Regions from separate parts of the Homo sapiens genome. Here region 2 is linked to region 1. The links come from fine-mapping of genetic effects on gene expression. A gene starts in region 1. The other region holds a variant in brackets. All regions are shown on one strand. Distances are from middle to middle. Region 1 holds the start of DDX5 (DEAD-box helicase 5). Region 2 has its middle 130 kb from the start of LINC02563.

What was found.
Region 2: its variant is fine-mapped to the expression of DDX5 in gastroesophageal junction (GTEx, PIP above 0.99).

The regions. Positions count from the first base shown.
Region 1 is chr17:64,504,840-64,507,751 of GRCh38, forward strand. It overlaps DDX5 (DEAD-box helicase 5), which reads right to left and starts at 1,450. Exons shown (of 13, transcript NM_004396.5): 1 at 1,237-1,450; 2 at 1-3. The coding sequence starts at 1,280. CEP95 (centrosomal protein 95) reads left to right here and starts at 2,138. Exons shown (of 20, transcript NM_138363.3): 1 at 2,138-2,277. The coding sequence starts at 2,259. RefSeq lists a silencer at 541-610 and enhancers at 701-910, 971-1,100, 1,801-2,040, 2,241-2,330, 2,312-2,912 and 1 more.
Region 2 is chr17:65,327,489-65,330,400 of GRCh38, forward strand. No RefSeq gene overlaps it. Among named protein-coding and RNA genes, the nearest start is that of LINC02563, 130 kb to the right of the region's middle. The variant G/A (reference allele first, on the strand shown) is at 1,363.

The sequences.
Region 1 (2,912 bases):
AACCTGGAATGAAAAAAAACGTTATTCACATTTTCAAATGGCTATACCCAGGTTTCTGTATAGATTTGTCATCCATTGGCACAAGCTAAAAACCACTGAAAACAGACTTCGAGAGGTAAACCTAGCACTGTCCTTCGTGAAAATCTCTCTCTCTCTCAACAGCCACAGTTAACATTTCCCGTAGTCCCAAGTACACATTACTTAGGTCATGTAAACAGCCTGGGATTTATCATGTCGGAAGCCGGGGATTTATCATGTCGGAAACTTGTCACCCACATGCCAGAATTTGGGATTCTGGCACACACCACTTCTTGTGGTTACTGTAATCTTCCCCACCAGCCTAGCAATTCACTATCAGCAATAACAAGGCTACATGAACCGAAGAGCATCACGACGATGTTACTCATATGGCCGTTTTGGAACCAAACAGCTTTAGTGGTAAGAACCTAAACAGTACAGTCAGCGATAACAGAACAAGGGTTTTCTCAGAAACACTTCTGCTAGCAAACCCAGCTGGGGGAACGCCGCGGTAGAGCTCCGGATCAACGAATCAAAATTATATAACGCAGGAAAAAAGAAAAGGAGGAGCCGGCGACTACCGGGGGAGGAGTCCCGGCCCGGGCGGAGTCGGCCGGGCGGCGTTCCCGCTGGGGCGGCGCTTCCCCCTTTGTCTCGCATTTCTCTCTGCGCCACATTTTCTCGACGCTGCCATTTTGAGCTCCTCCGCCGGGCGGGGTAACAAAGGCGCCGCCGCCATGTCCGAGGCCGGCATTTTGTACTCGCGACTCAGCCACATGGCTGATGCCGGCCGCCCTCCTACCCCAACAGCACCAGGGCTTTGGAAGTGGTCCCCTCGCTCCCACAGAATGCCCGGCCACCCCAAAAACACCTCCCGAAACGCCGCACCTAACAGATGTTCCTTCGTCTGCCTCGAAGCGTCCCGCTTTCATCCGCACAATACGCTCCCTCTCAACTCCCTCAACAGCTACCAAATGGCAGCCGCCCCGACAGCTCCCCAATCCCCACACAAAAAGCAAGCTTGAAGACACTACACCGTCAAATCTCTTCCAATCACTGTGACGTGAATATCAAAATGGCGCAAGCCTTCGGGAAAGGAAGTCCCAAGATAGCCCGGAAAGGCCAAGTCCAAGCCGCAAAGCCCCCGCCGGCCGCCACCCTGACCCGCCCTCCCATCCCCCCACCCGCCAGGCCTGACAGCTCGGCTCCCAAACTCACCCTCGGTCCCGGCCGCGGTCTCGGTCACTCGAATAACCCGACATGGCGTCAATGGTTGCGGTTGGCGGGGAACGAAGTATATAGAAAAGCGTGCGACAAGTCGCTGGAAATGGCCTCGATGACGGCGAAGCCTTGCGGGGGCGGCAGCGGAGGAAGGACACCGATGACACCAGCCGAAGCTGCACTACTAGAGACCGGTAGAAATGAATGAGGTGCCGGCCGCTTTCCGGCAGCCGCTTTTATAGTCTGGACCGCCTCCTACGCCGCAGGGAACGCTGGGAGCCGCTCTATGACCTAATCGCCCCGCCCCTCGCGCATAGGCCGCAACGCCCGCTGGCGTTCCAGGATCGCCGCGCTTTCACCCCTCCCCGCGCCACTCTCTCAGGTCAGGGCCCACCCACCATTGGAATGCCTCATTCTGCACTCTCTTGACCTCACCTTCTTCTGGTCTTTCCACACCTCAAGCAAGCCACCCCGCCCTTTCCCAAGCCCAGCCCCGCCCACCCTCGCCACTCGGAGATGTTTACGTCTCCAAAGAGCCCTCACGTCTGTAACCAAAAGAGGGGGAAGGCGGGGCCTGGCGTTGTCACGTGGCTGTACCACCCCGGACCACCGAGAGAGCGGTCCGCACTACTTTCCCGTTGACGTCGGCGGAGGGATACAAAACGAAATAGCTCACCGGAAGTGCGCTGCTCGCACCCCGGGACCCGCCCGGGCTGCCGGCTGATGTGGACCGTCCGACCCGCGTGTCTGATAATCCTTTGACGGGTTTTGGTCGGCGGAGAATGGTCTCTAAACTTCCCAAACCGCCCCCGTTTCACGTCCTGTGAAAGGAAGTGCTCCTCTGATGACCAATCAGCGGCGAGAAGCTCTTTTAACGTCCGTCCTTCTTTCACGCCTCCTTCCCCGCGCTTTGGTTCGTGCGTCCGCGCCCCAGTGTCGGGTCTGCGTGGATCGGTCCTTCCAGGACACCGTCGCCTTCCCGGCCGCGTCGGAGTCCGGCGGCGACCTGCCTCTGAAACATGGCAGGCTCGGATGCTGGTGAGTGTCTCCCTGGGGTCCCAGTATGTGTGGACTGAAACCGTCCACCTCCAGGGAGGCCTCGGGCTAGCCCGGACTGGGTCTGGGCTGTCGGCGGGGCTCGTGACCTTCAGACGCCGCGTCGCGCTGGCGGGTTCCCTGGATAGGGTCTCTCAGCTTCACCACCTCTTCGCTTCGAGGCCGTGGAACAGCAGTATGCTGTGGGAGAGAGAGAGGCACTGGGGCGAGGCCGGTAGGACACTTGGGTCCTGGCTGTAAAAAGAGCGGTCAGAAGGGTCGTCCCCGGACTTGTCTTTCTGTGGGGCGTCTAGCCGCTGTCCGTGTGCCCTCCGCCCTTGCACTATGGGCCCTGAGGTCGTACCTGCTTTTGTATTGGTCTTTAAAGGAACAGCATTCTTAAGATTTATTATGCCCCTGCAGAATAGTAGAATATGCCCCTGTAGAATAGTTGTGCTTTTTTCTCTTCAGTGCCCTCTAGAGTCATGGGCTTTGTCTAGCACCGCTTTTGAAGAGCGAATTAATTTGGTTGTCTAGGACGCTTTCATCCTTTTCACAAGGACTGCGTACAAACCAGTTGTCATGGTTTGGCCAGCTGTGAGAAATGGGCGTGGGGAGGGGGATTATGTGCATGGAAA
Region 2 (2,912 bases), 820 kb after region 1:
AAGTTATGCGACCTTTTTCCACTCCCAAGTTCTGAAACAGGAGAAACCTGGGCCAGGTGTGGTAGCTTATGCCAGTAATCCCAGCACTTTGGGAGGCCAAGGTTGGAGGATGGCTTGAGGCCAGTAGTTTTAGACCAGCCCGGGCAACATAGGGAGACCCCATCTCTAAAAAAAAAAAAGAATAAAAATTAATTGGATGTAGTGTCTTATGCCTGTAGTCCCAGCTATTAGGGAAGTAGAGGTGGGAGGATCGCTTGAGCCCAGGGGGTCAAGGATGCAGTAAGCTGTGATCATGCCACTGCATTCCAGCCTTGGCAACAGAGTAAGACCCTGTGAAAGAAAGAAAGAGAGAGAGAGAGAGAGAAACCAAGAAAGAAAGAAAGAAACCAAGAAACCAAGGAACAAAGGAAGGAAGGAAGGAAGGAAGGAAAGAACCAAGGAACCAAGGAAAGAACCTGCGCCCTTAAGCCTAACTCAAAACAAAGCACGGGAGATCAATTGTCTTCCAATGATGGGAGGAAACGTACATGTTACTGTTGCCAAAGAAGGAAGAGAATCTTTGGAGTCCAGAGTCTTTTCCTATGCTCATGTAGGCCTAAGGCTGCTCTAGGAAGTGTTAAAAGCACCTGTCAGAACAGGAAGTGAGATGACCTCTAGGTTAGGCAGGGAATCTGAGCTAGGGCCTGACCTCCTGGTCCTCTTTTACTTCATATCACTTCATACTGACTGTCCTGTGGTTGAACAAAATGGAACCAAATTTGTTGCAGACCATGAGTCTGGTCCTTGGTTTTGCTCAAGAGGGTTCTGCTCATGAGCCTTTGTTGGCAGTGCAGTGATGCTGGCTCACAGTGAGCAGAGAAGGCCTTTAGGCTGAGACCAACCCTTTTTGTCTGTACCTTTAAGGTGACCTCCAATTGGAGCATTTGTCTGTACCTTTAAGGTGATCTCCAACTGGACCTCCAACTGGAGCTCCAATTGTGCACATCAATGGCACAGTAATTTTCCTGAGTGCAAGAACATCTAATTCAATTTCTGTCCTTAGTACTTGGCCTTGCTCACCACTCTGTGATAGCCAGCCTCCAAGATGGTCCCCAATCATTCTTGTTTTCTGAGGCTCACACCCAGTGCAAACCCCTCCCACACTGAGTAGGGCCAACCTGAATAAGGCTGGCCCATGAGTGAACATGATATTGCAGAAATGATAGTGACTACTTAGCCAAGGTTGTAAAACATATTGCAGCTTCCTCATTGCTCTTTCTTAAATCACTTGCTGTAGGAGAAGCCAGTTGCCATGGTGTGAGGGTGCTCAAGGAACCCTATGGAGAGGTCACATGACAAGGAACCAAAGTCTCCTGCCAACAT[G/A]TGAGTGAATGAGCCACTTGGAAGCAGATCCTCCAGGCTGAATCAAGCCTTCAGACAACTGTAACCCCAGCTGACCTCTTGACTACAGTCTCAGGGAGGACCCTGAGCTGGGACCACCCAGCTAAGCTGCTCTTGAATTCCTGAGCTGTAGAAATTATAAAAGATAATACAAGTTTATCGTTGTTGCTAAATTTTGGGGGTAATCTATCGCACAGTAACAGCTGATACATTCTCCACAAATTCTTGGTGAATGAATGAATGAATAAAAAATGAATGAATAAATATGACAAGGTCTTACAAGACTTACTGGTCAGTGCTATTGAAAAGAGGCAAATGGCCCATGTCCTGCCACAAAATGCCTCAATACCTGTCAATGCAGCAGGAAGGAAGTGGAAAGCCTGACATGGCTCCCGTTCTACCAAAATAAACTCATTTTCCACCAGTCCCCATCAGGCAAGGTCCTTTCCCCTGTGCCCCCAACAGACCATCCTAAATATCTGATACCTGTTCCTTCATACATCAACACTATTGCATGGGCTCTCTACCTTCTCTGGAGGCTCTTCCCTAATTCTTTCTCCTGGTAATTCCTACTTATATCTTTAAAAAATGAGAAGTTATTTTTATTTATTTTTTTTGAAATGGAGTTTCACTCTTGTTGCCCAGGCTGGAGTGCAGCGGTGTGATCTCGGCTCACTGCAACCTCTGCCTCCCGGGTTCAAGTGATTCTCCTGCCTCAGCCTCCCAAGTAGCTGGGATTACAGGCATGCACCACCATGCCTGGCTAATTTTGTATTTTTAGTAGAGATGGAGCTTCACCATGTTTGCCAGGCTGGTATTGAGCTCCTGACCTCAGGTGATCCACCTGCCTTGACCTCCCAAAAAAATAAGAATTAAAAAAATGTCCAGAGTGAACTTATGAATCCCTATAAATCCTCCAGGGACTGTGGACCCCAGTTTAAGAAACTGAACAATATGATGGAATATTATAGTCATTTAAATGGATATTTTAGAAGAGTCCATGATAAGAAAAATGTTTGTTAGATACTGTTAACTGAAAAAGAAAAACATGCACACTTGAACAAATATTACATCACGTAATATTTGTTGTTACTTATATTATTAATAAGTATGATATAGTTGTATGTATAAATGTATGGATAACAAAATAAATCCTTCCAGGTATTAAGTCTTATGTAAAAAATAAAATAAAATACATCCTCACATAAACTTAGAGGTAAGTCGATTGAGAGAGGGAGAGTATACATAAAATGCTAAGAGTTCACCTCCCCAGGAGAGTATGATGAATAATTTTTAAAATAATTTTTTGATGTTCTGTAATGTCCAGATTTCTACAATGAACATGTGTACAGTGCTTATAATTAGAAAAAAATGAGGTTTTTTTTTTTTTTTTGAAAGGCTGAAGACAGGGCTTGTGGCTGACTCCTCAGGCTCTGGGAGAAATTCTGCTCCTGGGGGCTGGAAGAACAAAGGGACAGTCGTGCCTACTGGTCCTTGGAGAATCTCCTGCAGTCACAGGGCAAGACCTGATA